4 linked regions of the Homo sapiens genome follow. The protein of the gene in region 3 interacts with the protein of the main gene of each other region in a biochemical or structural test. Each region holds a gene or a part of one and is shown on either strand. Other genes may lie near its edges. The genes, in order: CEP131, EPB41L5, MIB1 and JAG1.

The links.
Region 1: the proteins of MIB1 (region 3) and CEP131 form a complex in vitro, tested with the Homo sapiens proteins (one study listed by BioGRID).
Region 2: the proteins of MIB1 (region 3) and EPB41L5 form a complex in vitro, tested with the Homo sapiens proteins (one study listed by BioGRID).
Region 4: the proteins of MIB1 (region 3) and JAG1 are reported together in a solved structure, tested with the Homo sapiens proteins (one study listed by BioGRID).

The regions. Positions count from the first base shown.
Region 1 is NC_000017.11:81,212,687-81,220,682, forward strand, and holds part of CEP131 (centrosomal protein of 131 kDa), read right to left. Parts: intron 7,388-7,996; 5' UTR 7,371-7,387; coding exon 7,194-7,370; intron 1-7,193. UniProt on the Homo sapiens protein: Component of centriolar satellites contributing to the building of a complex and dynamic network required to regulate cilia/flagellum formation.
Region 2 is NC_000002.12:120,085,546-120,093,541, reverse strand, and holds part of EPB41L5 (band 4.1-like protein 5), read right to left. Parts: intron 6,372-7,996; coding exon 6,302-6,371; intron 3,196-6,301; coding exon 3,026-3,195; intron 1,988-3,025; coding exon 1,881-1,987; intron 294-1,880; coding exon 266-293; intron 1-265. UniProt on the Homo sapiens protein: Plays a role in the formation and organization of tight junctions during the establishment of polarity in epithelial cells.
Region 3 is NC_000018.10:21,841,522-21,849,517, forward strand, and holds part of MIB1 (E3 ubiquitin-protein ligase MIB1), read left to right. Parts: intron 1-1,609; coding exon 1,610-1,696; intron 1,697-2,570; coding exon 2,571-2,732; intron 2,733-5,422; coding exon 5,423-5,604; intron 5,605-7,674; coding exon 7,675-7,867; intron 7,868-7,996. UniProt on the Homo sapiens protein: E3 ubiquitin-protein ligase that mediates ubiquitination of Delta receptors, which act as ligands of Notch proteins.
Region 4 is NC_000020.11:10,663,696-10,671,691, forward strand, and holds part of JAG1 (protein jagged-1 precursor), read right to left. Parts: intron 320-7,996; coding exon 268-319; intron 1-267. UniProt on the Homo sapiens protein: Ligand for multiple Notch receptors and involved in the mediation of Notch signaling. May be involved in cell-fate decisions during hematopoiesis. Seems to be involved in early and late stages of mammalian cardiovascular development.

The sequences.
Region 1 (7,996 bases), on a different chromosome or scaffold from region 3:
CACACACACAGGAGCTAAACCAGGGACAGCAGACGATGGGGCCGCATCCTCACTGCAGGAGGGGAGGTTACAATCAGCAAGCGTCGGGGGGGCGAGAGGTGCCACTAGCGGCAGAGACATCAGTAGGACGCACAACACCAATGGTTACTAGGTAGGTTACTATCTATAGACAGTGTGTATATTACACACCAACTGGCGTACACTACATACTTCCTTGCTCTGTTGGCTGAGAAGACCAGAAACAGCCCAGTAGGGACAAGCACACCCAGCTCCCAGACCTTGGTCTCTGAGACCACTCTCCAAGAAAAAGAACCGGGGCTTCTTGAAGAAATGGCTGATTCTAGGACTGGAGGAGGAAATAGACAAGATGAGGCTGGAGCAGTTTATAGGGCCAGAAATAAGGACGTGCTCAGAAGACAAAGTGATGGGCAATGACACAGGGACCCAGGAGCCACCTGAAAGTTCCCAGTGGCCAAAGCTGTGACAATGAGAGCAACAAAATAAGCAAACTAGCATTGAATTATAACTTGAAGTGTAAAATAAATATCCACGAGTCCATTATAATAAATGATTGAAAAAATTAATAAGTGGGGCCAGGTGCAGTGGCTCATGCCTGTAATCCCAGCACTTTGGGAAGCCAAGGCAGGAGGATCACTTGAGGTCAGGAGTTCGAGACCAGCCTGGCCAACATGGTGAAACCCCATCTCTACTGAAATACAAAAATTAGTCAGGTGTGGTGGCACACGCCTGTAGTTCTAGCTACTCAGGAGGCTGAGATAGGAAAATCGCTTGAACCCGGGAGGCGGAGATTGCAGTGAGCCAAGATTATGCCACTGCACTGCAGCCTGGGCGACAGCGTGAGACACTGTCTCAAAAAAAAAAAAAAATTATAAATGAGGGTGAACAGACAAATCTCCTGTGTAGAAGAATTCCAAATAACTTCTATAGATGCTCTTCTCTAAAGGAGGGGGAGCAAAACTCCCCACCCCTTCCATGTGGGCTGAACAAAGCGACTTCCTTCCAGAGAGCACAGGGGATGGGCGACCTCACAGTGGAGAAGCCTGACCCTCCACCTTGGCCAGGGGACCAAGGCCAGCAGCATCACCAGTGAGAGGTCACATGGACAGTGTGGACCCCAGACAGGATGGGGTGAGAAGAGTACTTTACCTCTGTGGCCTTCCTCCTAGAACCCATCCACCACCCAGTCTGATCACGAGAAAAATATCAGGCAAGGGCCAACAGGGGGCCATTCTGTAAAATCCCTGACCAGCTCTCCCCAAAACTCGAAGGTCATCAAAAACAAGGAGAGTCTGAGAAACTCACAGCCCAAACAAGCCTGAGACCCACAGCCCAAAAATCATGTGGGATCCTGGGACAGAAAAGAAAAACTGCAAAAATACAAATCAAGTGTGGACTTTAGTCAGTGATTTACCAATAATGACTTGTTAATTGTACACGTCCCATCATAATGTAAGATATTCAAATAGCAGAGACTGGGTGCGGTACAGGGGAACACCCTGCACTTTCCAATTTTTCTATAAATTTAAAACTATACTAACATAAAAGGTTTATTTTTAAAAATCGTACAGTCACGCCGGAGGCTCACGCCTGTAAGCCCAGCACTTTGGGAGGCCAAGGCGGGCGGATTCACTTGAGGTCAGTAGTTTGAGACCAGCCTGGCCAACATGGTGAAATCCTGTCTCTACTAAAAATACAAAACTTAGCCCGGCATGGTGGCAGGCGCCTGTAATCCCAGCTACTCGGGAGGCTGAGGCAGGAGAATCACTTGAACCCAGGAGACAGAGATTGCGGTGAGGTGAAATCACACCATTGCACTCCAGCCTAGGTGACAGGAGTGAAACTTCATCTCAAAAAAGAAAAAGAAAAAAATAAAATAAAAAGTAAAAAGTAAACTAAAAGGTAGTACAGTCAGATATCTTTTGTTACATATGGATCCTGTAAAGGCCAAAACTGTGCTGCACGTGTGCCAACCAGAGCACGAGGGAGCAGGCCCCGTGGCACCCTGTGATGCGAGTGTGACTTAGGGCAATGATCTTTACGGACAGCAACTTGGCAATGCCTATCAAAAAAAAAAATTTTTTTTGAGACGGAATCTCGCTCTGTCGCCCAGGGTGGAGTGCAGTGGCGCGATCTCGGCTCACTGCAAGTTCCGCCTCCTGGGTTCACGCCATTCTCCTGCCTCAGCCTCCCGAGTAGCCGCGACTACAGGTGCCTGCCACCACGCCCGGCTAATTTTTTTTTTTGTATTTTTAGTAGAGATGGGGTTTCACCGTGTTAGCCAGGATGGTCTCAATCTCCTGGCCTCGTGATCTGCTTGCCTCAACCTCCCAAAGTGCTGGGATTACAGGCATGAGCCACCGCGCCTGGCCAAAAATTTACAATTTAGTTTTAATTTTAATTTTAAAAGATAGAGTCTCACTCTGTTGCCCAGGCTGGAGAGCAGTGGCATGATCATAGCTCACTGCAGCCTCAAACTTTCTGGGTTCAAGCCATCCTCCTGCCCCAGCCTCCCATGTAGCTGGGACTACAGGCATGCACCACCACACTCGGCTAATTTTTTAATTTTTTTGTAGAGACAGGGGTCTCACTATGTTGCCCAGGCTGGTCTCAAACTCCTGGCCTCAAGTGATCCTCCCACCGCAGCCACGCAAAGTGCTGGGATTACAGATATTGGCCACCACTCCCGGCCCCCTTTCAAATTTTTTTATTTATTTAATTTTTTTTGAAATGGAGTCTCGCTGTCACCCAGGCTAGAGTGTGGTGGTGCGATCTTGGCTCACTGCAACCTCCAGCTTCCGGGTTAAATCAGTTCTCCTGCCTTAGCTTCCTGTGTAGCTGGCATTACAGGTGCCTGCCACCACGTCCAGCTATTTTTTCTATTTTTAGTAGAGACGAGGTTTCACCGTGTTGGCCAGGCTGGTCTCGAACTCCTGACCTCAAGCAATCTGCCCACCTCGGCGTCCCAAAGTGCTGGGATTACAGGCACGGGCCACCGCACCTGGCCCCCCTTTCAAAATTTTAAATGGACTTATGCTCTGACCCAGTAGTTATCCTTTAGGATTTATTCTACAGGCGTATTTACATGTATGCAAAATGGCAAAGACACAGGGTATTTGCTGTGCCACTCTTGGTACTATGATAAGGAAAATCCAGAGGAGCACTGGGTGAAGTTCTGGTGCATCATCTGATGAACTATTGTCAGCTGCTACAAAACAATGTAAGGAAAGCGGGAGCAGGGTCAGGTGCAGCGGCCCACACCCGTAATCCCAGCACTTTGGGAGGCCGAGGTGGGAGGATCGCTTCAGCCCAGGAGTTAAGGACCAGCAACCTAGTGAGACCCCTGTCCCTACAAAAAAATTAAAAATTAGTAGGCTGGGTGTGGTGGCTCACACCTGTAATCCCAGCACTTCGGGAGGCTGAGGCAGGAGGATCACCTGAGGTCAAGAGTTCAAGACCAGCCTGACCAACATGGCGAAACCCCGTCGCTACTAAAAATACAAAATTAGCCGGGCATGGTGGTGCATGCCTGTAATCCCAGCTTCTTGGGAGGCAGAGGCAGGAGAATCCCTTGAACCCGGGAGGCAGAGGCTGCAGTGAGCCGAGATCTCACAAATGCACTCCAGCCTGGGCAAAAAGAGCAAAAGTCTGTCTCAAAAGAAAAAAAAAATTAAAAATTAGCTGGGCAGGGTGGTGAGCACCTGTAATCCATGCTACTCAGGATGCTGAGGTAAGAGGATCACTTGTGTCCGGGAGGTGGAGGCTGCAGTAAGCTGTGGTTTCTCCACTGCACTCCAGCCTGGGCAACAGAGCAAGACCCCGTCTTAAAAAGAAAAAGAAAAGAGAATGCAGGAGCCCCACGCAGCTGACGGATACGGCACTTGTTCCAACACATCTCCAGCATCACTGATGCCTGTGTGCCCAGAGTAAGTGTGGGTGCAGGAGAAACAGAACAGTGGCCGCCTAGGAGAGGCCCGCAAGGTCGGGCAGGACAGGCTCACTGCTCAATGAGCCCCCTTTTCCCAAATGGTGGGTGTGAATGGCCTATTCAAAACACATGGTAGGAATTTTGAAATCATCCCCCAAAATGGCACCAGTCATTGCATCAGGGCCATGGGATTATGGGTGCCCTTCATCCTGTCTCCATTTTCCTGGGGTCAGTTTCGCAGCCTCCAAGAGGAAGATAAGGGATGTCAGGGGAGGGATGAAGGGGCTGCCACTCACTGACGGACACCACGGTGGAAAGGCACCACTCATGCTCAGATGGTAAATCAAGTCATGGACTAAAAACCCTAAACTCCACCTGCAAGAAGGAGGCAACATCGCCCAGGGAGGGGCAGGTGGCCCCCATGGCCATGACACATATGCACAGTGATGTCTGTTCCCCAGTGAGCTTGTGCTCTTGGGATTTAAAGACCTCTTTTCTTTAAGGGGAAGGGAACCAGAGTGAATAATGATCTAGGGGGCTAGAGGATCAGGTGGGCACACAGCTGGGGCAAGGAAGAGGGACCCTCTACAGTCTGGCACCGACATCTCTTGAGCCAGAAGACCAGCAGGAACTGCAGTTACATCCTGGATGGGGAATCCCGGGACAGCAGGCCGTGGACGCAGGAAGATCTTTAGAGACAAGGGGTAGAGTGGAAACCCCAGGCCAATGGCCACCGAGAAGGTCTCCGAGCCAGGGGACAGCACCCCACCCCACCCACAAACACCAGGAGGAAGAGAATCACGTGCCGCCTTGTACAGGTGTGAAGCCATGCCTGGCCAAAACAAATGCTCTCCAGGAATCCCGATGAGACTGAGTGGTAGCAGGGCAGGTGGCCGAGAGGATGGGGACCGGGCACAACAGAAACCCCTGAGGTCACGTCACACACTGGCGGGGGTTCCTCTTCCACCAGCAGTTCCCGAGCTCCCACCATGGGCACAACAGAAGGCAGACAGGCATGCAGGGGTGGGGCCGTCTCGGATCGAGCGAGGGCCTCAAAGAATTGAAGTGAACAGCTGGAACATTCCATGAACGAGGGGACTGTTAGCAGTCGCCACTCAACACTGCGGGAGCGGGCAATGGTACCAGCCGAGGAAAGGAGGGATCGATATGAGTAGCGCTCGCTGTGGCTTTGAACCTCTACTCAGCAACAGAACATTTCCCAGCAGAAAGGCTGGGAGTGTGGTTAGGTGCCTGGGTCGGCCGCGGATAGAGCCTGGCCATGCCGCCGAAAGACCATCTACTAGAAAGCCCGGAAACTTTTACAACAGTCTCCACACAACAAGAGAGCTGCAATTTCTTTCTTTCTCCTTCTCCCTCTCCCTCTCCCTCCCCCTCCCCCTCCCTCTTTCTTTCTTTCTTTCTTTTTTTGAGACAGAGTCTTGCTCTTTCGCCCAGGCTGGAGTACAGTGGCATGATCTCGGCTCACTGCAGCCTCCTCCGCCCGGGTTCAAGCAACTCTCCTGTCTCAGCCTCCTGAGTAGCTGGGATTAAGGGTGCGCGCCACCACGCCCGGCTAATTTTTGCATTTTCAGTAGAGGCAGGGTTTCACTATGTTGGCCAGGCTGGTATTGAACTCCTGACCTCAGGTGATCCACCCGCCTCAACCTCCCAAAGTGCTGGGATCACGGGCGTGAGCCACCTCGCCCAGCCCAGATCTGCGATTTCGAGTGCGTCTTCCCCGCCCCATGTGCCATGAACCTAGGGCTTTAGAAACAGCGGGAGGGGCCAAGGCAGGTGGGCGAGGGGGTCAGTGACGCAGGAGCAGGGCTGCGGACAGGAGAGGCAGCAGGCTCAGAGACGGCTCTAGCCCAAGCTGGTTACCCCTCTGCTAAAACAGTGCAGCATATTTTTATTTTCACAGCTTACGTCTGTAAATGCCTAGAGGCGTACCACATCTTTAGACAACCTGCCGGCCACAATGACACATCAGGACATCCCGGGTCCCCGCCCTGCTGGCCCAGGCTTTGGGAACCTGCTTGGTCCAAGGGTCCGCTACTGGCCCGGCTGCCCTTACCCCGGAACTCGGCTAGCCGTCTGGCGGGCCACACCCTGCCCACCTGGGGGTGCTTCTAGGGCAGACACAGGAATAACTTTTTCAAGGAGAAGGGGGAGGTCCAAGCCTTTTATTCACAGTGGAACCCTGGCCTGGGCCTGCCAGGGGTTCCTGTGGGAAGCCTCAACTGCCCTCCAGACCCCTTCTCTCTGCCCTGCTATGTTGCCTGGCACGGACCTCAGGCAGGGAGCCCCAGACCGGCTGCCGCATGGAAGCCAAGGCCCCCAGGCCCTTGCTATTCGGAAGCTCAGGCCAGACTCTGGTCAGGCTCTGCCCCAACCCCCACAGAGCGGCTCGATTCCTCCCTTGCCCCAAAGACTGGGCCTGGCAGACACCAACTCAGGGTGCAGCAGGCCCGGCCTGCCTTTCACAGCCCCCATCTGGGAACCACCCACCCTCCTCCCTACTCCCAGAGGTGGGCAGGAAAGGCAGCTCTCACCCCGAAGCTCCCACGGCTGTCCTGCTGCCCACACACCCACACACCCGTCTAGGTTTCTCCAAGGCCACCAGGAGCTCATCACCCCTCCCCACAGGTCAACCCCATTTCTTTCTTTTTTTTTTTTTTTTGAGATGGCATCTCACTCTGTCGCCAGGCTGGAGTGCAACGGCACGATCTCGGCTCACCGCAACCTCTGCCTCCTGGGTTCGAGCAAATCTCCTGCCTCAGCCTCCCGAGTAGCTAGGATTACAGGCATGCACCACCATGCCCGGCTAATTTTTTTTTGTATCTTTAGTAGAGACGGAGTTTCACCATGTTGGTCAGGCTGGTCTTGAACTGCTGACCTCAGATGACCCGCCTGCCTCGGCCTCCCAAAGTGCTGAGATTACAGGCGTGAGCCACCGAGCCCAGCCAACCCCATTTCCTGAGGATTCAAACAAATCCAAAGGGCGGTGGCACAGGAGGCCTGGGGCTGTTGCTGAAAGAATCCAAGCTCTGGCTTGACTTTCTAGTGATTCAGCACCCACGCCTGTAAGACTCAAGTCCTACCTGCCTCCTGGAACAGCCACGAGGATCCAGCATGTCCAGATGTGAGGCACTTGTTCACCTGTGGAGCTGGACCCAGGGGTCAGATGCCAACTGAACAACAGCCCTCCAGGAGGCAGGGGCCCGGACTCCTAGGCCACAGTACTCACCAGCACCTTCCTCTTCTGCTCGCTGCCTGTGACCACGGAGACAGAGCGGACGATGGGCTTGGTGGTGGCGGCACTGCCAGGACGCCGGGACACAGGCGGAGGGAGACCTGTCAGACTCAGGTCCACACCTGCTGGGCTGCGCTCCGGGACGCTGCCGATGGCCCGGGTGCCTTTCATGGTGGACAAGGCAGGTCCTGAGCGGGGAAGCAAGAGCTGCAATGAGATGCCGTGGGGGAACTACAGTCCCCTGCACCCACCATCTCCAGCCCAGCCTCAGCTGGGTCCACTGGCCACCAAACTTCCTGGGAAGGCCTGTCACAACCTATGCACCCCTCTGGCTGGTGGCAGGCTCCTCGACAGGAACATGAGGGAGCTGTTCTGAGCCCAATGTCAGTGTATGCCAGGGCAGGAGGGCCCTGGATGATGGACAGGTGGGTGGCGAGGGCAAGGCCCGTGGGTGGGAATAAGCCAGCAGCACCCCAGAGGGAGCCTGGGCCACAGGCCATTGTCGATGTGAGCCAGGTTCTGCCATCTACCCCACACCGTGATTCTGAGAAAGTCACTGCCCCGAGCCCCACTGTTTTCTTCTGTAAAAGGGACATTTGATTTATTTTTTATTTTATTATGTTTTTGAAACAGAGTCTCGTTCTTGTCACCCAGGCTGGAGTGCAGTGGCGCGATCTCGGCTCATTGCCACCTCTGCCTCCCGGGTTCAAGCGATTCTCCTGCCTCAGCCTCCTGAGTAGCTGGGATTACAGGTGCCCGCCACCACGCCTGGCTAATTTTTGTATTTTTAGTAGAAG
Region 2 (7,996 bases), on a different chromosome or scaffold from region 3:
TCAGCCACTTGCCAATAACAAAGGTATGTCATTCTCTTTATGAATGGCTCATCTGCCTCGACCCCATTCTTTACTTCCTTAAACTGCTTTAATTTTTCATCATGTCACTTTTATCTGGCATTACATGTTCATTTATTCCCTGACATATCCCTGGTGCTTTACGGACAACTTGACATTTTGATAGGTCTTAAATATTTGTTTAATGATAGCAACTACATAAATCCCAAATTCTATACCAATTCCTAAGTTGCAAAACATTACTTACCTAAGTTCTTCAGGTTTTGTAGCACATGCTAACAGAAGAAAAAAGATAACACCTCATTAGTTTCATCTTACATGATAAACTGCTGCACTATTCAAAGCAAAACTTTAACTAATTGCTTTACAAGCCATGTTTCACAACCATAAATTTATTTCTTTGAGAAAGGGTCTTTCATGATTTTGTAGAGATAGGGGTGGGTCTCACTACTGTTGCCCAGGCTGGTCTCAAACTCCTAAGAGTTGAGCTTTTGGGCTCAAGCAATCCTCCCACCTTGGCCTCCCAAAGTGCTGGGATTAAAGGTGTGAGCCACCACATTTGGCCCCAACCATAAATCTAAAAACCTTCAATTCACCAAAGTGTTTTGGGATTCACACCATAGAGGCAACAATGGCAATTATTTTCATTTTTCAAATAAAGCAATACAATGCATATATATCTCCTCCTTTTAAACAGAACCAATCTGTAAGCCTCCAGAGTGAGCTGACTGATTATGAATTATCATCAGTGGAAACCAAGAGGAAACTTAGGGTTTTAAAATCATCACAATTCATTTATAGCTGTATATTTAATTTACAGCCACACCAAAACTTATGAGTATAAATCATTTTTATAAAAAAGTCAATACTGCCAAACATCAGATCATTACAGCTGTTTTTGGACAACTGGTGATGACTCTGACAGTGGAAATACTTAAAATTAAATTTGCATTTTAATGCAAATTCATTTTAATGCAAATTCAGTTTAAAACCAAACACAAGGTTTAATTTATTTGTCAAGGTAAATAGTGCTTTTTCTTATATAACTGATCTTAATCAGCAAGTAACAATTATGAATTAGGAAATGTCTATGTATAACAATGATGAATATATTTTAAAATGGTATTTAATACAATCCTTAATATTATAATACAATATGAAATAAATTTTACTTAAAAAAAATTCATCACAAGACAATGTTTTGGCCAGGCATGCCTGTAATCCTTTTAGGATTCGGGAGGCCAAGGTGGGTGGATCACTTGAGGTCAGGAGTTCAAGACCAGCCCAGCCAACATGGCAAAACCCCATCTCTACTAAAAATACAAAAATGAGTCAGGAGTGGTGGCGCATGCCTGTAATCCCAGCTACTCAGGTGGCTGAGACATGAGAATCACTTGAATCTGGGAGGTGGAGGTTGCAGTGAGCTGAGATCATGCCACTGCACTCCAACCTGAGCAACAGAGTGAGACTATCTCAAAATAAATAAATAAATAAATAAATAAATAAATAAATAAAAATGTTTTTAAAAATTCCTAAGGGGATTAAGGGATGTTTTAGAATGAGATCTGTAAGTCAAAAAGGGAGAGAATATGTTGCTCTACAGAAACAGTTTTGTATACAAAAACTGAACATAACCTCAGACTATCATTTGAATTGGGATTAACATAAAGTTTAATCTCTGCTAACAATACAGGCAATTTTTCTCTGTGTATCCCATGAAATTGATTCTGCCAGAAAAGTACTTTAGTTGACTGGAACAGACCTGAGGAGGAGATTCAGGTAACTTCCTCTTATGGAAACAACACCAGCACATAATTAATTGCCAAGGAAAAATAATCCTTTGAAAGAGGGTTGCACTTCACCTTTCATTTGTAGAGTTCGTCTAGAATATCGTTTGCTGGGCCTTCTTTCAAAGGATGTTGATCTTCTTGCTTTATTGGTTTTTGTGGTCTGATACTCTGTTTTCCCACTAAATGAGGCATAACAGAAGTAAGGGAAATTTTAGGTCTACAGTAATAAACACACACAAATAAGACAGTCCACATTCAGGTTCTCCTTAAAAGAATCATCCTAAACTTCATCGCACAGGAACAGCTACTAATAGTCTCGATCTCTCTCTTTACCATATCATTCTTTCGGCTTTTGTGAAATATGCAACAGATTATGTTGGTTTTATTTTTCTCATATGCATGCATATCACCTAAGTACACATTAAATAAGTTTGAAATATCTGTCCTTTTATGGAAACTCCCTCTCTTTCCCATCTACATTCCTCAGTGCAAAGTGTGTAATTAAAAGAATATTTTCAGTTACTTTTTCTAATTGTGATATTCACTTTTCAGTATAATTTTCCAGAAATGTTTTTTAAGACTACTGTCTTATTCTCCTTGATTTCCATTTAAATTCTGTTTAGAAAATGCCTCCTTACTTTTAATATAAGTAGACTACAGTACTACTTCTATTAACTCCACACAATCAACTGGCCACATTATTGGTACAATCCATTCCTTCTTTAACTGATTTCCATGGCATGCAGAAAACTCACAACCAATAATCCACTCTGCAGTAAACCAAAACATTTCTAACTCATGACAACAAACAAGGAGTCATGAGAATAATGACCTTCAGGTTTATAAAGGACCACAAATGTTATCCAGACTAATATCCCATTCAGTGCAAGAAACCCTTTTCTATATGGTATCCAGTGGTGGGTGGAGAGTCCATAAAACTCTTGTTAAATAGATAAACTGGGAGTGGGTTAATATATAAAGTAAACATCCAGAGGGATATAAAAGCCATTATACAATTACTGTTTACGCATCTATTCAAGAAATTATAACCAATAACAATACCACTTTTTCTATTTTATTTTGGCCAATGGAAGACTCTGGCAAACCACCTTATTCCTCTATACCTTAGTTACCATATCTGTAAAAAAGAGAAGATTGGCCTAAATTTTTTGGCCTGTATGCAATGAAAGACAGATAAAACAGCAATTAAAATTAACCTATATCTAAATCGTGATCCTAGTCGAATAAATCCTGATCGATGAGAACTCTTTTGGACGGGGCCTCGAAGGCGGAAGAAAGCATGATGCTCCACAGCACATTTCCATAAATGTTTGCATGCTTTTGGATGATCCAGTCTAAAGACAAATGTATGTTCCTGTTCTTTGCCCTGAAAAAGAAAAGTATATATAAAAGGATGATTACTAATTCAAACAGTCCTATCTCCTATTTCTGAGATACAAACACATCCATGAATAAAGGATCTAGTGTGCTCCCTGAAATTCAGACACTCTTTATAGTATCAACATAATAAGGGCAGAGCTGAAATCAAGTTGCTCATTTTATCAGCCAATACAAAATTATTCCTAGGAGTTATTCCCCTCTACTTACATGATCTCATTTGTGAGAGAGACATAAAATGAGATTTTATCTGCCATTATTTGGGATAACTGTATAATTATAATTTGAGGAATCATATCAGATCTGGCAGTATGCATCAACAGCCCTAAAAATGCTCACATTTTTGTCATAGTAATCACACTGCCATGAGTCTAATTATAATAGTTAACATTCATATAGAAATTTTTCTAAGGATTTCACATAAATTATCTCAATGAGTAGATACTATCATTAGCCCCATTTCATAGATAAGGAAACTGAGGCTCAAAGAAATTAAGCCCAAAATCACAAAGCTATTAAGAAAGAAAACCGGAAATGAACTTAAACATTAGTCTTGCTCCAGAATCTACATACACCTCTAACAACTAAGTTATACTGCCTCTCTGGGGAAAATTATTTCCTAAACATCAAAAGTTATATATGAAGATGTATATTTCCTCAGTCTCATTTATAATAGTAAAACTTGGTACAAACCCTAAACGTCCAAAAAAAGAGAAATGGTCAAGTAAATAGAGGCATATGTAAAAAATTATGCAGAGGGATAAATGAATAAATGATGAATGAATGAATGTGCTATTGTTTATTCATATTACACAATAGCATATATATATGTTAGATCTACATAGGTACACGTTTAGATAAAACAGGCAAGCTGCAAATATATATAATTATGCAAGTTTTTAAAACAATTCTAACATGAGTTAATATTTGGAAAAAGTTACAAAATATATATGAGAATAATACCCTCCAAAATTGGTGACCAGGTACCAGAAGAAAGGGGGTAGGTAGTCAGGGGGTTAGACTTTAGTTGGTATTATTTATTCATGCACATAATTGTATTTATCTTTCTCTAAAAGAGAACTGAAGCAAAATGTAAAAAATGTTAAATCTAGATCATTAATAAGATGGTTATCTATTTTATAATTTTTGGTACTTTTCAGGTTATTTAAAGACACTATTAAGACAGTAAAGATGGATACGCTAATTACCCTGATTTGATAATTACACATTGTATACATGTATCAAAATATCACTCTGTATGCAATAAATATGTACAATTATTATATGTCATCTAAAAATAAAAGTGGTGGAAAAAGGGCAAAACAAGGAGTAGACGATACTTGCAACACTAATATCTGACAGAGAATTAATATCCAGAACATACAAAGAATTTTTTCAATGACTAAAAGGCACATGACCTAATAGAAAAATAAGCAAAAGATTTGAGTAGGCATTTCATAAAGAAGATATCCACATATCCAATAACTACACAGATAAGTACTAAACCAGAGTTGTCATTAGGGGAACACAAACTAAAACCACATTCTACTCCACAAGAATGGCTACAATGAAAAAGACAGAATTCCAAACATTAGCAAAAAAGAAAAAAAACACCAATAACATTGCTGGTGGGAGTATAAACTCGTATTAAATACTTTGGAAAGAGGTTTGGCAGTACCTACAAAAGCTAAATATACATACACCTTAGTGTTCAGAGCAGCACTCTTTTTTATTTTTTAACTTTTATTTTGGGTTTGGGGTACAAGAGAAGGTTTGTTACATAGGTAAACACGTGTCATGGTGGTTTATTGCACATGTTATTTCATCACCCAGGTATTAAGTCCAGTTATCTTTCAGTTAGTTATCTTTTCTACTCTTCTCCCTCTTCCCACCCTCCCCACTCAAGTAGATCCCAGTGTCCGCTGTTGCCTTCTTTGTGTTCATAAGTTCTTATCATTTAGCTCCCACTTGTAAGTAAGAGCATGTAGTATTTGGTTTTCTCTTCTTGCATTACTTTGCTAAGGATAATATCCTCCAGCTCCATCCATGGTCCCGCAAAAAAGATCTCATTCTTTTTTATGGCTGCATAGTATCCCATTGTGTGTTTAAAACAGGAAAAGTATAGCAGTCAAATTACTGAGCAGAGGAAAATGAAAGAACTGGATTCAAAAAAAAAATTTTCATCGTTATAAAAATGTTTAAACATACAGAAAAACTGAATACCCATATACATAGTGTCTAGACTCAACAACTGTTAACATTTTGCTCAAACTGCTTTTATCTGTATCTGTATGCATATGTTAAAATTTATTAATTTGCATAAAGTAAAATTCTTCTTGCCTTTTCTAAAGTATCAGATAAATGGAGTCATTCAATACATAATTTTTTAAATCTGGCTTCTTGCATTAAGAACAATGCATGTGAGTTGCATCCAAGCATGTATCAATTAAGAACCACACTGTAACTGATACAAAGGTAATCTTTAATTCAAAAGGCTTTATTATTATTAGGTAGATCTTTTTGATCAGTTAATAAAGAGATAAAGTTGGTCTGCCACAATGGTTTACTCCTGTAATCTCAACATGCTGAGAAGCTAAGATGGGAGGATTACTTAAGGCCAAGAGTTTGAGAGCAACCTTGGCAACATACTGAGATCCCATCTCTACAAATAAATGAAAAAATCAGCCAGGCGTGGTGGTGGCATGTGCCTGCAGTCCCAGCTACTCAGGAGGCTGAGTGAGCAGGAGGATCACTTGAGCCCAGAAGGTGAAGGTTACAGTGAGCTATGACAGTGCCACTGCCCTCCAGCCTGGGTGACTGGCTGGCTCACTTAAATGTAATTTTTTATACACCTCAGATATACGATCAATGAGGAAACAAGAAGACACTTTTATATTATTTTTCATCCTAAGGGCAGAAAACCATATTTTTAGCATGGTATGACCCAAGTAAGGAAATTATTTAAAGCATTAATTATACTGTTTGCATTCTGTGGCTCTTTAAAACAATGAGGTACATTCCCTCTTTTAGAGAAATAAGTTACCACATAATACAGTCACTGTTACACAAGTAATAGAATATAATTTTATTCCTACCTGATCATCATCTTCTACAACCACCAAGGTTAATTTATTCTTCTTAAAATCCAATCTGGTTATCTTCGGCCTATAATATAATAAGAGAATAAAAGCCAAATTACAAACAAATGTTCTCTAAATATGAAAAAAATTGTTTTTATTTCAAATACATTTAACCATCTAACTCCTGAACTAAAAATTGACAGGACGGTAAACGTAACTTGCAATGCCCATCAAAAGACAGGAAACAGAAAAACACAGTACATATTTCAAAAGCAAATCTCAGACAAAATTGAGGTTGCACATATCAGACATTAAAAATGTTAAGGAAAATGAAATCTATGTATTTGATAGGTCTCGATTATGGTGTAAGAGATTCTTTAGGTCTAGGGAAAATTGTTCCAGTGTTAAAGCAGAGCAGCAGCATAGGAACTAGACATAGGAACGACCATAAAGCTTAAAAAAAACAGCCATAAAGAAAAACACTGACGATGGTTTTCAACTCTTTTTGTTTGTTTGAGATAGGTTCTCCCTCCATTACACAGGGTGGACTGCAGTAGTGTGTTCACAGCTCACTGCAGCCGTGAACTTCCAGGCTCCAGTAATCCTCCTGCCTCAGCCTTACTCCCACACCACACCAGGCTAATTTTTGTATTCTTTGTAGAGACGGCATCTCGCTACGTTGCCCAGGCTGGTCTCAAATTCCTGGGCTCAAGTGATCCGCATACCCTGGTCTCCCAAAGTGTTGGAATTCAGACGTGAGCCACTGCAACCAGCCTCAACTCTGTTTTCAACAGGAATTTTGGGTAGAGGAAATACTTCTTAATTTTTTTAACCTCGCTTTATGGCCCGCTTTCCAACTGTATCTCCCTACTTGTAAATTCCAAACCACCTACCACACATTTGAACTCTGTATTTCCATAAATTGTGAATGTCGAAACAATGTGACACTCCGATTGACTAATCTTTAAATATAACATATAAAATAGATGTAAAACATAACTTTACAAGAGCTTTACTAAAACAATAATGAAGAAATAATAGCAGGAAAAAGAAAGGAAACAGAATCTCACTCTGTCACAAAGGCTGGAGTGCAGTGGCGTGATCTTGGCTCACTACAACCTCCACCTCCCAGGTTCAAGCAATTCTCCTGCCTCAGCCTCCAGAGTAGCTGGGATTACAGGTGCGTGCCACCATGCTATGCCTGGCTAATCTTAGTATTTTTAGTAGAGACAGGTTTTCACCATGTTGGCCAGGCTGGTCTTGAACTCCTGACCTCAGGTGAGCCCCTGCCTTGGTGGGGATTACAGGAGTGAGCCACCTGGTCTGCCCTAAGTATTCTTCTAAGTGCTTTACAAGTATTAATTAACTCTCAAGACAACCTTATAAAAAGGCAGAAAAGGAGCTTTCTTTATCTCTCTGCCTAAAGCATTCTTAGGCCAGGAAGCATGTTACATTTGCCCACAGGACAAGCTGGAGGTATGAGGGGATTTAACACCCAAAAAATTGGAAGATAATTGCCTGAGGTTCTTCACGCATCAAGGGACAACCGTAAAGGTGTTCAACTCAAGTCTCTCAGAGAGTCCCTAGCAAGAACACCCAGATGCAAAACTAAATGAAATACTACCTTCGAGAGCAGTGGTTCTCTCAGCACGGAGTTTGAGATCTGAGAACGGACAGACTGCCTCCTCAAGTGGGTCCCTGACCCCCAAG
Region 3 (7,996 bases):
GTTACTACAATTGCCCACTTAGAATGACTAAAATTAAAAGACCAATAAAACCAAGTATTGGTTAGGATGTGGAACAATTAGAATTTGTATACATTGCTGGTGTTTTTTTTTTAAAGCAGGCACTTTGAAAAACAAATTGGTGGTTTCTTACAAAGTTTGACATATATTTATCATGTGACTCAGCTATCCCACTTCTAGGTATGTACCCAAGAGAACATAGGACACCTTTCCAAGCAAATACTTGTACTAAATGTTTGTAGCAGCTATTATTAGCCCCATACTGGAAGCGAAGCCAAATGTTCAGGTAGTGCTGGGATAAACAAATTGTGCAAATTGTGGTGCACCTATGCAATGAATACTACTTAGTGAAATGTCAATGATGGAAAAGCTCAGGAAACTTAAAGAAAAATCCCCATTGTGCACATTTATGTGAGAAATAGACATGATAAAGAATTAAGCTGACACTCGGAAGGCTAAGGCAGGAGTATTCCTTAAGCCCAGGAGTTTGAGGCTGCAGTGAGCTATGTGCCACTGCACTCCAGCCTGGGTGACAGAGTGAGACCCTATCTCAAAAAAAAAAAAAAAAAAAAAAAAAAAGAAGAAAAGAAGCTGAGATCAGGTACCTTCTGACCACACTTCAAAGAAACATAATAAAAACAAATGAGAAATTCCCATCTTGAAGAATATGACATAACATTACCAAAGTTTCAGCTCTGCATACCCCGCCAGTATCAAGAGTTGTAACCAGAGGGCATGCATGGTTCTAAGACCTAAACGAAATGATCGGTTTATCTTTTGAATCTTTAGCTCTTTTCTTGATCTCATTTTAAAAAATTTTTAAATTATGCTAGACATTTGCTAGGCATTTTCATATGTTATTTTACTTAATCTTCACATTAGCCCTGTGAAATAGGTTTTAACTGTCACCATTTTGGAGCTGAGGAAGTAGATGATGGAGTTTTGACCTAGGTCCCCTGACTCCCAAGTGCACTTATTTTGCTCCTCAGTCTCTTTCTTCATTAGGGTTCAGCTGTTCTCATACGGTTCTTCAGCTGCCCTAGGTTCTTGGGTAGGATTTTCTGCTTACTTTAATGCATAATTTTATGTACGAATTAAGCATTACCTTCTCACCTAAAGCAAACTTTCTTTTCACAGAGTGAGGAAGAGCTCAAATATGCAGCAAGGGGAAGTGAACTTATTAGGTCATTAAAGTAAATCTAAATCCAGTATGAAGACTCATTATTATAACTTTTCAGGAAATATTTAGAGTTCTAAGGAGTTGATTATCTCCATTGCTTTATAGTGGAGATTGAAAGAGATCTGTCTTTGAACTCTACTGTGCTTTGTCCTTTTTAACTGTTCTTGGGTGGAATTACCATAATAAAAATGATTTTTAAAACTTGCTGTTTTACTTCAGAAAGTTTGTTGCCCCATCCATTTTTTTCTACTTTAACAGCAACTGTTACCATATGAGAATAACATTGCAGCAGCTGAAGGAGAAAGTAGCCAGCAGTGTTCGGTGTTATTTATTCCTTATGAGTAGTTATAGTTTTCATGTTCTTTACTGTTGTCAAATTTTAACCATTTAACATTTGTTCTTCTCGTTCAGGGTAATGCAAACCTGGATATCCAGAATGTGAACCAACAAACTGCCCTACACCTTGCTGTTGAACGACAGCATACCCAGATTGTTAGGGTAAAGTATTGACATACATTTTAGCTTATAATTACATTTTAACCATACAGATTTTTAGAACTTCCTGAAAATTGAAATGATACAGTGTTACATGTCTCAAGCTGGCATAGTTAGATATAAGTAAATCTAAATATCTAAATACAATGTGATCTGCCAAGACAGATGAGACCATATGCTTGAGATTGGCTTCTATATATAGATGGTACTTTTCTAAAGCTCTTCAGTAAGTATCGTAGAAGGGATTAGGAAAATTGTTAAAGCACCATAAGCAAAGTTTTAATAAACTTATATTTACTGCTTAAGTAATCTATTGAAATATGTCAACTGTGCATTTTTATTTAGGGGGTTGTAGTTTAGCAAACACTGTTCGTATTTATTGTTATTTGAAATTCCTCTTGATATCCTCCATGGCTTTCTTCATGACCATACATTTGGAGAAAATTGACCAAAAGAGAATGGAATCAATAATAACAGTTCCTTGTTTGTTTACATAATAGAAGAATTTTGAACATTATGATTTGGTCCTGGTGGAAGTGCTTAAAATATCTCAAGTCATACATCTAAAGTTGAAAAGAGAAATAAAGTCCTAAATATCCCTCCGTTATCATCATCTTAGAGTAGATGAATTAAGCAACATATTGATTCTCATATATTTTTATTTTCTCTAATTCAATATATTTAAATAACCAGAACACGTGACTCTTTGTAAGGAGCCACAGGGTTGGAGAAGAGTAGAAGGCAAAAGCATAAAAATGATTAGCTTTAGTGGTAACTTCTTCAGTAGGTCCAGGGTGTTCTCACCATTACTTTAGATATGTTGAAGTTTCTTATGGATGTGGACACTTTGCCAAAATGAGACATCTTTCTCTTTTAGCTTTTGGTCCGTGCAGGTGCCAAGCTTGATATTCAGGATAAGGATGGGGATACTCCTTTGCATGAAGCTCTAAGGCATCACACTTTGTCTCAGCTACGTCAGCTCCAAGATATGCAAGATGTGGGGAAGGTGGATGCTGCCTGGGAGCCATCCAAAAACACGGTGAGTAAAGATCATCTTTCATTCAGTACCAGTGGAAGAATCTTTTCATGCAAGATCTTATATTTACTGGTAATCTAACCTGTATTGGATAAAATATTTTATCAGAGCTATGTACTTAGAAACTTAGTTTATGAACTTAGTACTAGTCAGTACTAACTTATTGCTCCACATTTTTACCAAAAGTTGTTCAGTTCTGTTGTTGTTGTTGTTGTTATGTGGAGTCCCACTCTGTCACCCAGGCTGGAGTGCTTGGCTCACTGCAACCACCTGGGTTTAAGCCATTCTCTTGCCTCAACCTCCCAAGTAGCTGGGATTATAGGCGCCTGCACCACACCTAGCTAATTTTTGTATTTTTAGTAGAGACGGAGTTTCACCATGTTGGTCAGGCTGGTCTCGAACTCCTGACCTCAGGTGATCCACCCGCCTCGGTCTCCCACAGTGCTGGGATTACAGGCCTGAGCCACTGCGCCCAGCCATTCAGTTCTTTTTTAACATCAGCCATTCAAATAGATACGTAGTGGTATCTTATTGTGGTTTAATTTGCATTTTCCTAATGACTATTGATATTGAGCATCTTTTCATTTGTCTGTCACCATATGTATTTTATGAAGTGTCTGCTCAAATCTTTTGTTCATTATTTTGTTAGGCTGTTTGTTTTCTTACTACTGAGTTTTGAGAGTTCTTTATGTAATCGGAATACAAGTTCTTTATATGTGAATGCACATATTTTCTCCCAGTTGGTAGGAGATTTGTCTTTTCATTCTTTTTTTTTTTTGAGATGGAGTCTCGCTCTGTCGCCCAGGCTGGAGTGCAGTGGCACAATCTTGGCTCACTGCAACCTCCGCCTCCTGGGTTCAAGTAATTCTCCTGCCTCAGCCTCCCAAGTAGCTGGGACTACAGGTGCATGCCACCACGCCCAGCTAATTTTTTGTATTGTTTTTAGTGGAGACGGGGTTTCACCTTAGCCAGGGTGGTCTTGATCTCCTGACCTCGTGATCTGCCTGCCTCAGCCTCCCAAAGTGCTGGGATTACAGGCATGAGCCACCACACCCAGCCCTTTTCATTCTTCTAATAGTGATTTGGAAGAGTCAAATTTTTTAATTTTGAGGAAGTCTAATTTATCAAGTTTTTCTTTCATCATTTGTGTTTTTTGTGTGTGTTCTGTCTGAGATATCTTTGCCAAACCCAAGATCGCTAAGGTTTTCTTTTATGTTTTGTACTAGAAGTTTATAAAGTTTTAGCTGTTATGTTTAGGTCTATGATTCTTTTTGAGTTAATTTGTATATATTGTGTGACATATGGATCCAGGTTTATTTACTTGTGGATATCCAGTTGTTCCAGTGCCATTAGTTGAAAAGACTTTGTTTCTTTTCTTTTTTCTTTTTTTTGAGACAGAGTCTTGCACTGTTGCCTGGGCTGGAGTGCAATGGTGTGATCTTGGCACACTGCAACCTCTGCCTCCTGGGGTCACGCGATTCTCCTGCCTCAGCCTCCCAAGTAGCTGGCATTGCAGGTGCACACCACCACACCTGGCTAATTTTTTGTATTTTTAGTAGAGACAAGGTTTCACTATGTTGGCCAGACTGGTCCCGAACTCCTGACCTCATGATCCGTCTGCTTCAGCCTCCCAAAGTCCTGGGATTACAGGCATGAGCCACCACACTCGGCTGAAAAGACTTTCTTTTTCTACTGAATTGCCAGTATACTTTTATCCAAAATCAGTTAATTGTTTATGTGAAGGTCTCTTTCTGGATCATGTATTCTGTTCTGTTGGTCTATGTTTTTAGCTATTTGATACCAGCCCCCAGTCTTAATTACTGTCTACATAATACGTGTTGAAGTCAGGTAGTGTCAGTCCTCCAGTTTTCTTGTTTTTTCGAAGTTATTTGACTATTCTAAGTCCTTCACATTTCCATAAGAATTTTAAAATCATTTTTTAGAGGGTAAAAAGGTTCTGAGACCAAAGTGTTTGAGACCTCTGCCTTATTTATGACCATGGGTAAGTTCTCTTAGCTCGGTGTGCCTCTTTTTTTCTCATTTTAAAATGGGAAGAGGAGAGCACTTACCTCGATAAGGTTGTTGTAAAGATCATGGAAAGTGTGTAAAATAATACTTGATCCATTTTAGACACTCAATAAATGTTAACAGTTATTGTGACTATTTTCACATAAGATGATGAGAAGAATCTCAGATAATATTATCAGAACCTAATTTGTCTCATTCTCCGTATCTTGGCTCAATTCCTAGTCATTGGTTCTTTTCTCAGTTGTCTCTCCTGTCATTGTTTCAAGTTGGTTGCTAGCTGCTCCAGAGCCAAATTAATTAGGAAAGAGAGTACTGTTTCTTTAGTATCTCAATCAGAAGTTCCACTTTTGAGTTCTGTTGGGCTTAATTGACTTGATTTGTGTTATGTGTCCATCCCGGTTCTAGCCATATAGGTAAGGTAGAGGTATCTGACTGGTTTGGGCCATGTTTGGTCCACCTCTGCAGCTGGAGAATGTAGGTCCACCTCTACAACTGGAGAAAGCATACTTGTGTGTATGCTTGAGAAAACCAGGGGTAGAGTGGTGGGGAGGGAACATTAGGACTAGAACTCATAAGTGTCCACCACACACACATACATATATATGATGACAAGAATTGATGGCAGATTCCTAGAGGGAAAATCATGACTCTTTATTTTATTGCAGTTAATAATGGGACTTGGTACCCAGGGGGCAGAGAAGAAGAGTGCAGCATCTATTGCCTGTTTCTTGGCAGCCAATGGTGCTGACCTGAGCATTCGAAATAAGAAGGGTCAATCGCCACTTGATCTCTGTCCTGATCCGAATCTCTGCAAAGCACTGGCAAAGTGTCATAAGGAAAAAGTCAGGTTTGTATTATTTATTATCATAAAACTTAATATTCTGTACAGAAAATATCATGTGGTTTCGTAATGGAGGACGTGGCTACTTGAAAATGTCTTCATCTTTGCTCTTCCTGTATATTTGTGTTGACCCTTTCTTTCCTGAAATTTTTCTTCCTTGAAAATTTTTCTGCAGGCAGCATGTCTCTTATTTTATGCCATATTCCCCACATTATTGAGTGCAATGCTCTATACTTAATAAGTTCTGAGAAACTTTTCTAAACTAGTCTGATCTTCTAGTACTCCCATGTGTTAGAGGGATTTATGAGAAAAAGTCTTCTAGTAAAATTGCTGTTGTTAATGTTACATGTATTTTAAATTGTATTTATTTTTTATTGTATTATTATTATTTTTTAAAAATACGTCTTGCTGTGTTGCCCAGGTTGGGCTTAAACTCCTGGGCTCAAGCAATCCTCTTGCTTCATCCTCAGTAGCTGGGACTGTATGCATGTGCCACTGTGCCTGGCTCTATATTTAAAATTTAAATAGAATCTTCCTAAGACAGGCAACTTATACTCCATGAACAGGGTATATCTCACACAAACTGTAGCACCCTGCTCAGTGCCTGACAGGTGCACTCAGTATCAGTGGAGAATGAACAAATGAATGCACCAAGTCCTGGTGGAGTTTTCTCTAAAGATGATCATTTCACATTTGTCTCTTTTTCTGAAAGATATGTCAGTGATTTTAATTATTATTTATGACATAACTAATTTCCTTATGAGATTTTATAGATGTACAAAAAGGTACACATCTCATTGCTTTTTTAAATCTGAACAGTGCTGTGCAACTGTTGTTGCCCTTTGTACCTGGTTCTTGTCACTGAAATTTCAGTAGCTGTTCCTTAACCTTAGTGTTCCTTGCCTCTCTCATAATTTATGTGTAGTGATGAAATGTCATCTCTTTGGAATCTGTGCATAGAACTGTGTTATAGAGGAAATTAATATAGTGAGGTATATACATTTCTTTAAGTGTATTGTTAAGGAACATGAAATTCTATTACAAAAAGAGAATGCATCGGCCGGGCGTGGTGGCTCACACCTGTAATCTGAGCACTTTGGGAGGCCGAGGCAGGTGGATTGAGGTCAGGAGTTCAAGACCAGCCTGACTAACATGGTGAGACCCTGTCTCTACTAAAAATACAAAAACTAGCTGGGCGCATGCCTATAATCCCAGCTACTTGGGAGGCTGAGGCAGGAGAATTGCTTGAACCGGGAGGCGGAGGTTGCAGCAGTGAGCCGAGATCACACCACTGTACTCCAGCCTGGGCAACAAGAGCAAAATTCTGTCTCCAAAAAAAAAAATCTATAAATATAAAGATATAAGGCACTATAATTATTGCAGTAATAACTTTTAAACAATGGAGTCTAAGGTGGACCCTCTGTGTACGTGTTGTGTACGTGTTCGTGAGTTTCTGAAGATTGTGGTAGAAACAGGGCATCCCTTTTCTGTAGCTGTAGGTGGTCATATGTATTTCTGTTCCTTGTATCTGTGTTTACGGATGCAGTCTATCTTTCTGTAATATAATTTTATGTTCCTTAAGGATACACTTAAAAATGTCAAAACAGCAGCTGAAGTGTTAAATTTTCCAAAGTGCCCTATCTGTTGTGGACTCTGATGATGCTTTGTTCCGTCTTTAGTAAGGCAACTAACATGGGGGCTAGTGAGGATTTTTGTTTTATTCCTATGCCTTCCTCTGCTGGTTCTATATAGATACAACAGGTTCTGAGCAAAATTTTGTTTATGCTAAGTTTTTTTTTTAATTGCTGTTTTTTATTTCATTGTTAGAAGATTCACCCTTTTCCATTGGGTGAGTGAGTGTTCAGTTTGAAGTTTGAATTGTGTTAGAAGTATCTAAAGATGCAGAGACGCATATAAACACAAAAATTTAATGTTTCACATACAGATGTTAAAGCTTAATTTTTTAATATGACTAGTTTTTATGTATACTAATGATGCTCCAGGTATATTTTAAAACATTTTAATTAGTGAATTTGTAATAAGATAGGCTTGATTTGAAATACTTTCTTTTATTAGTGGTCAAGTGGGTTCTCGGAGTCCTTCTATGATTAGTAATGATTCTGAAACCTTAGAAGAGTGTATGGTGTGCTCAGATATGAAGAGAGATACTCTTTTTGGTCCATGTGGACATATTGCTACCTGTTCTTTATGTTCTCCACGTGTCAAGAAATGCCTCATCTGTAAAGAACAGGTTCAATCCAGGACAAAGGTAAGATATATTTAATATAGTATTTTGTCATTTTATGAAGTTGAGACTAGAATTAATGATAAATAAGATTTAATGACATCATGCGTCTGTGTAATTTTGCTCTTCCAAACAATGATTTAAATATAGGAA
Region 4 (7,996 bases), on a different chromosome or scaffold from region 3:
TCTCTATCCCGAAGATAATCTAGGTTTCATAATCAGGGAATGAGTTAACTGGGATTCTGTTCTGGCCACTTAATATTCCAAGCAAAAATCCTAGAAAAGTTAAGGAATACATTCCACTGAAGGTTCACCCTGGGGTACAGGGGAGAACAGAAGGCAAGAGGTGGCAGAAATGCTAAGTACTAAGGAGACAGATCCAGCTCCAACTGGTTGGCCAAGCCCCACACTTCCACGTGTGTTTAGAGAAAAGTCCACAGAAGCGATACTTACGAACGGTGTCATTACTGGAATCCCACGCCTCCACAAGCAACGTATAGGACCTCTGCAAGACAAACAAACAATTTAGCAATTCAGAAACAGGGTCGACTTTCCAAAATCTCGTACATTCTTGGCCTCCCAGAATACCCCACCAAACAAAACCATAATGCCAAAATAAAAATTCTGTTGGTTGTTGCATTGAGTTCCTGGATGTTTAAATCCAAACCAACTCCCCTTCCTTTGTCAGCACTCTTCCCAGGTTGACAAATGACTCCTTTCACCTGGCAGGGACGCACTGGAGTCAACATGCATGCAGGCAGCTCAAAGTTGAGATCAGGAAATGCCACCTCACTATATGATATGAGAGTATTTAGCATATAGTTTCCCAAAACTTTCCAGACCCTGACCCTAGTGCATGAGGAAACACACACACACACACACACACACACACACACACACACAAAGAATTTATTCTAAGCTAACCTAACCAGGTATTTGTACCGAGGGGGTATTGCTAAGGTTACACTTTGGGCCCTGGTGAGGCAGTCTCTAGGGAGGCCCCCTTTTCCTTTTTAGAACCCCTTTGAAAACTCTGTCTATGTGAGACCATCCTGGCTCCCACAAGTATCGGGTAACTCTAGGAAACAGGAGGGGGTAGATGCAAAGTGACTCTGCAAGACAAAGAAGTCAACCTCACTTGGGCGGTGGAGTTGGGGGCAGATCCCAGGGAAGAAAGTACAAAGGGAGAAACAACCGCACACCCATGGGTTATATTTATTGATGAACTTATCTGTTAATAAGATCTAACATTCCAAGAATAATCAGAGTCTACTAACTAAACAAATTCCCTGGATACTGGCAAGATGCCAGCTGTTAAACTGAAGGCACCTTTTATCTTCCAAGCTTATCTCAGAATTCCACCTCCCCACCCCCAGCCAAACCTAAGCTATTAGCAAATTCCCTCCTTTTCTAAAATTTTCCTTCGTAATTTACAGTAAGGTCAGTCTCACAAAACACCAGCGTTTAAATGAAGCTTCTGCTATCTTGGCACTGAAGAAATGTACTCAAGGCAGGTGGGGTAGACAAGGAACATGAACTAGGTTATGAATCCCTGCTTTGCTGTGTCAGAAACCAAGCCATAGGAAATAGAAGCGTGTATAGATTAAATAATACCGTGCTGTGCCACCAGAAGCACACTGCTGCCAAGAGAAGAGAAAGCACCTATAAGATAAAGGAAAAAGAGAAAAAGGGAGGGTAAAAGGGAGTTTCATTCATAACTCAAGGCCAGCTTAGCGCTCTCAGAGTGACACAGCAGGTCATCTCTGAATATAAAAATATCTTGTGATAGACCCTGCCTTGGAATTCAGCCGAAATATGTTTCATACTCAAAGCAGAGTAGGATTCCATTTCGTTCACTGATAACTGTGGGAAAATGCTCAGAAAAGCAAGCAAAACCGGGCAAGCCAGGGCACATACCCAGCCCTCTCCTGTTAGTGGCCACAGGTCCAAATTCATTGCTGTTGTTACTATTTTATTAGCGAAAGTTATACCTTATTTACTGCCTCTTTAAGTTTCTTAGGACTTCCTGCAAATTACAGGACTCTTCCCTAAGAGCAGCAAGAAATTATATTTCTCTACTGATTTGAGGTAAGAGCACAGTCAAAATGAGGCCAGATGTGTGGCTGATTCTGTATAATTAAGCCCTTCATTTGCTGGTCACGTTGAGGCCCACGTCCTCCACTTCAACAGTATTGTTGTAATTAATCCTCTGATTAAATGCATTGATACCAGGAGTTTTGACAGACTTGCACAAGCGCTAAACACATAATACCCACAAACCCCACTGCAAGGGAAGGTGCCGGGACTGAGCTGGCATGGCAGTACTAACTCAGTTTAATACTCAAAGAGGAAAGCATCCTTAGGTCTTGCACAAGAACTTGGACGACCAAGCAGTCTACCAGGCTCATCCTCGCCAGAACTGGGAAAACCTCAGAAGTTGCTGACCGACATCACCCCACCTGGAGAGAAAAGAATTGCACACAGCCCTACGTGCCTGGCTCTGTGATTTTCCATGAACTGCCCTTCTTTCTCAGAGGCAGAGACAGGGTGAGGGCAGGGAGCTACAGTGACGGCAACAAAGCCTGGACTTTTTTTCCTGTCTGTTTCAGGGAGGGGATTAGGGTCTCCTGGGGCAGGAGGATTCCTCCTGCCCAGCCCTACAGAGAAAAAGGATTCCCTCCAAGGTTCCTATTAGGAGGCACTCAACCTCCCACTCCATCCCCACACTATAGATCAGCAATCAAGATAATTTAACAATGATTATTAGTTGCTAGAGAACTTTAATTTTTCCCAGGCCCACACTTGACCTCTGTACATCCCTGAACATACACCCAGGCACTGAGATCCCAGATCATGCACCCCACATCAAAGCAGGGACCAGGCCACAGAGCAGCAAATCCACTATGCCGAAGTCACATACAAGCAGCCACTGCAACTCTGACCCCCAGTAGAGGCGGAGTCCTCCATCCCAGGAGGGCTTGGAAAGGCAAGTGTTCAAACTTAAGTTTATACAGCAAAACAACAACAACAAAAGCAAATACCTGGGTTTTTCTTGATTTCAGACTACAGAACTAAGACTCTGCCGAAGAGTCACCTGGCTTTCATCTTTCCTTATGTTTTCCAGAACAGTACTGTGAAGGCCACACAGGAAGGAGGGGTAGCAAACAGATCTTTAGTCTGGATTTGCAAAGTGAGTCACTTCAGCCCCTTCCCAGCTCCAAGCCCAAGGAAATCTGGAAACCTGGCAGCTGGTTCCCATTCTGGTGTGGCATCAAAGAGGAATGGTCAGCCTTCGGAATTGCTTTTTGGAAGATTTCTGTGGAATTCTACCTAGAGGAGAGTCCTGGCATCAAAGCCCCAAGGCATCCAAGGGCCACCAGGTTCCCAGCAAGGCTGGGGCCCCTGCACCTCCTCCCGCCCTCCACACTTAGGCTGCTGTGCCAAGGTTGTGTTCTCTGCCCTGTCCCACTCCATGGCGGTTACCTTGGCACTGGGCAGAGCGGTAAGCACTTAATTGCCACATTAAGAAGGGGGGATGTAAGAAACAAAGGTAATTGTGTTGGCAGCCGGGAGCTTCCTTTTCCTGGCAACAGTGACAGCCAAACCAAGCCCTGAGAAGCGGCTGCCTCCCCTCCTGCCAAGCTGACGGACACAAATAAACCGCCATCCAAACGGCACGCGTGCGGCGTCCAAAACCCCAGGCTGCTGCGACAGGCAGGCCCGCCGGCGGCACGCACATCCTGGGAATGCCCGACGTGCCAACGCGGCCATTGTGCACAGTCAGTCGGCTCCCAGGGTTCGTCAGGGGCCCTGAGCTCTGCTGACTCAACTGTTGCTTCCTGTCGCTTGTCCTGTGTTAGCATTATTTTTGGAGAGGCCCTATTATTCTCCATAATCCTCATTTCAGTCAATTCGGCCAACTCTATTGTCCTGCCTGTGTCTGGGTGGCCAGAGTATAAAATATTCCAGTCACAAAACATATTAAGCAGAAAAGGTTGCAGGGAGTCCATGTGTGGCGCATGCACACGTACTCATGCACACAATGCGAGTGGGTTTTGGGAAAGTGAGATAAGAAAGGACAACTATCCTATAGCATCTAGGCTAAGACTTCAGGCACAGAAAGCAATCAAGTCTGTAGGGCTTGACATGTCAATAGAGTCCGATCTGGTTACAAAGGGTGATTTTCTCATCAAAGCCCACTCAAAGGCTCACCAAGGGGCCCCAAAGCTCATATCCAGATTTGTGACTCTCAATGAGACATCCCCACCCCCTTTCCCATCATTACCCTTACCTGTTTGAAAAGCATCCCACTGATAATTAAATGCACCAGTTACAAAAGGGTGGCGAGGTTAATAGATAGAATACCAAGAAGCCAGCCAAGCACAACGGTCTGGTTCACACAGAGCAAGCCTGAACAAGAAGCCTTTCTGTTTATTTACCAAAAGTGCATAAAAACTGGGTTGAGCTGGTAGAGGACTCTGCATGTTTGACTATTTATGTACTCCTTTAACTACTGGGAGCCACCTTGCGGAATTTCTTCCCAGCACACGCACTGCACCAATGGTAGATGTCACTGGCACCATAAAAAAAAAAAAAAAAAAAAAAAACAGCAGTCACAGGGCTGCTGTGGTCCATGCGGTAATCAGAAATCAGCAAAGAAGTCACAACACAGCCACCCAGTGCCATGCACCAAAGTAAAGGTGGGATTTTTCTGAACCCAGGACCCTCCTCCATTTCCACCACCATTTTAGAATCACCACTTTCCATTCATCCCAATGTATCTTCCAACAGTTGGAAGAAAAGATTAAGTTTTGAGAGATATATATATATTTAAAAGCTGAAGCCAAGAGTCACTTCTCTCAGCAGCCTAGATCCTAGGCTTGAAGGATGGGGGTAGGTGGAAGAGCAACATGCCTTACAGAAGTTTACCATGGAAGAATTTGCAGGAGTATTTGCATTTATGGATTACAACGCTAATTGTATGCACATCCAGAGATCATGCATTCTTACATTGTCACTAACCTTGAAAGCCGGACATTGGGACCAACTTCTGGCCCTTCTACAATGGGGCCAGTGGGTGATATGAATCCAGCCAAGGCCTCTGGTTCACATTCCTGTTTTCAGATCAGGAACTGTGAAGGCTCCTTGTTACCTTGACACTGTTTTTTTTTTTTTAAGTAACTTTTTTCTCCATGCTAAACTTTCCACGTCTTCTATCTAAAAGGTCCCCAAAGGCACCACTATTTGGTGTGAAGATTTTGAGCAGCACTTAGATTGCTGATTTTCTGGGAGGTTGCATGCCTGTAAGTTGCTGCTGACTCTCCTTTTAACCCACTGAACTCCCCCAAGAGCCTCCACGCCAAAGTTTCACCGTTTTCTAAAAACATCTTAAGTCCCTGTAGAATTACGGGTGTGGAACTGGTGGGTTGCAAATTCCTATAAGTACTGGAGGTTTGAATAAGTTGCTAAGAAACAAGACAACAAGGAGAAAGAAAACACAGAAGGTTACACCTGCAAGAGAAAAAAAAATTAGAAACCAAGTACCTGGAATAAAGATTCCATTTTTGGAGCAGCTATTCTGCAGATACTTAGCACAGCTCTTTCAAAGCAAGCACAGCTTCACTTTCCCCCAAGCCCAGTGTTGCAACACAGATACATCACTTCATCCCTTTGGTTTGAGGTAGACTTCTTAGGGCAAAAGGCGTTTTCTCCACATGCAGAAAGTCCCTTGCTCTGAGCACATACGTACACACATGCTCTTTCTTTGTATACATGCTGACTACACGGGCAGGATGCAAATCCTGGCTGCAGAAAGGAGGCAGGTCAAATCAGAACCCCATCCTTAAGCCCTCCATGTGCCCACACCATATCTACAGAAGCTCAGGGACTGGAAAAGACAGCAAAAGGCATAAAAGTAAGGGCCTGTCAATTACATTCTGTGATTAGCATCGTGGCAATTGGTCATTCAGGCCTGAAGCATGAAGGGGGCCAAAGCTGGCATCCCTCACACAGAAGAATCACGTTTCATTGGATTTTCCAAAAAAAAAAAAAAAAAAAAAAAAAAAAAAAAAAAAAAAAAGTTGATCTCAGCAAGTCTTTTAATAGGATCAATGGAATTTAAATATGAGGCTAATAAGCCAGATACCCCAATTTCTTCCCCTAACGTTTCTCTAGATTCATTTCACTCTGGGGCCACCGATGCAGCAATACAGCTAACTGGGGTTCTGAAGTTCCCAAAAAGCTTTTGGAGATGAGTAGTGGTAATTACACTAATGTATTTTTAATAAGCAGGCACTACTGGGATTTAGCACTAATTTTGGGAGGTACAGATTAACCGTTTCAGTGATTTATAAGTGGTAATTCCTAAATTATTTCCTGTTAAGCCCAATTACTTCCCACAATAATGGTTCTTATCACTTGGTCCCCCAATTTGAGAATCATTAATCCAGATAGTTGCTGCAAGTTAAGCCCCTTAGAGCAGCAACAGTATGAGAATTAGAAGCCAGTGGTGAAAAACTACCCCAAGACCAGAGCCGGGGCAGGGGACACCACGTGGGACATACTCAGATATGATATATGACAGGAAGGGCCACCTCTACAAAGCCTTTCACATGCACACCAGAACATGGACTGTATTTCATATCTGACCAAATCGTTTCCTCCTCGTCCTCTCTAGAACATGAACAGTTGCTTGGATAGGGGTCATAATTCCAAACAAAAAGCATGAACTACATGACCTTCTACACTGACCTACCCCTGCACCCTTTGCTGATACCCAGCGTCAGCAAATTTGGGAGGACTCATGCAAATGGTAATTGTGCCTGCTAGGGGTTGGGAGCCCAAGGTGGTTTGGAGTTTTGTTTTGTTTTTAACCATATATCCTTTTCTTGCTATCTCTTGAATTCTGTACTAAGTTCATTTATTTCCCATTCAAGGAAATCAGTTTTAAAAGACATAGTTAATTGCCAAACTAAATGAAGCTGTGCCCTCTAGTTAAATACTCGCTCAGCTACTTAAGTGTTTCAGTTACGTTTCTACTCAGCCTGGAATCATTCTTGAAAGTTACGGACTGTGCCGTTTCTCCAACCACATACAGAAAAACAAATACACCTAAACTCCAATTTCTCTTGAGAATTAAATCTTATGTTTCACAGCAGGCCTTTCTGGGGCATCAGGGTGGAGACTTGTTTATGAGTGATACATGCGTTTGTCCCAACTTCAAAAGAACCACATTTTCAGTGGTGCCCCATCGGTCTTCCCCCATTCGAGAAAAGCCGAGAGTCTATTTCATGGTTGGTGACCCGTGGGGCCTGAAACCACAGAAGAGCACCAGCAAATGCAAATCAATCGCCTCTCCTACCCTCCCACACTATTTCCGCTCGTTTTCCATTGAGGACTCTGACCAAGTGTCAAAAGCGGACAGACGCACTTTTCTAGGTCACTTTTCCTTGGCCAGCGAGGGAGCAAGCCTCCTTGTTTTCATGTTAGCCATCCCTCTGACCCTACTCTCCAAAATGAGCCTCAGCCAGGCTGCTGCTTTTCCACATCACTAATAAGATTCCTTTTATGGTCTTGTGAAAAGCGAGGGGCTCCAGACAGATCCTCCGGCAGGAGGGTGGAACCACCTGCAGGCCCCTTCCCCCTAAACTCCAAACACACGTTCAAGGGCAGTTTGAGTATTCACAGTCAGCTTGGGCCAGCCAGATTTAAACGCAGCCAGACTCTTTAGCTTAAAGTTCTCCCTAATAGGGGATTAACAAACAAGATAAATACTCTTGGTAAAAATGAAATCCCACAACAGAAACAGCCCTTGGACCTCAAGAGAGCTTCACAGACAGCGTTGGTTTTAATTTTTCTTTTTATAAACCCCTTTTCATGGCAGTTTTTGATAACTGTCTTATCTCACCCACAGCAGAGGGCACTTTATAATGCCAGCTCCTGTAATCGTGGATTTTAAGAGCCACCCCAAGCTTCATACACAGACACAGCCAGATAGTCTCCCCTCTGTCTCCTCCCAGAATCACAACCTAAGCCGGCGGACAGGAGGCAGCAGAGTGCACCCCATTAGAGCACGTGGTGGAAAGCAATGCTCTGGGGCACCGAGCTCCCCCTCTCACCACCCACCCTCCCAGCACAGGCTAGGCCAAGCCCCAGTCTTGGCAATGAGTCATGCCTCCTGGAC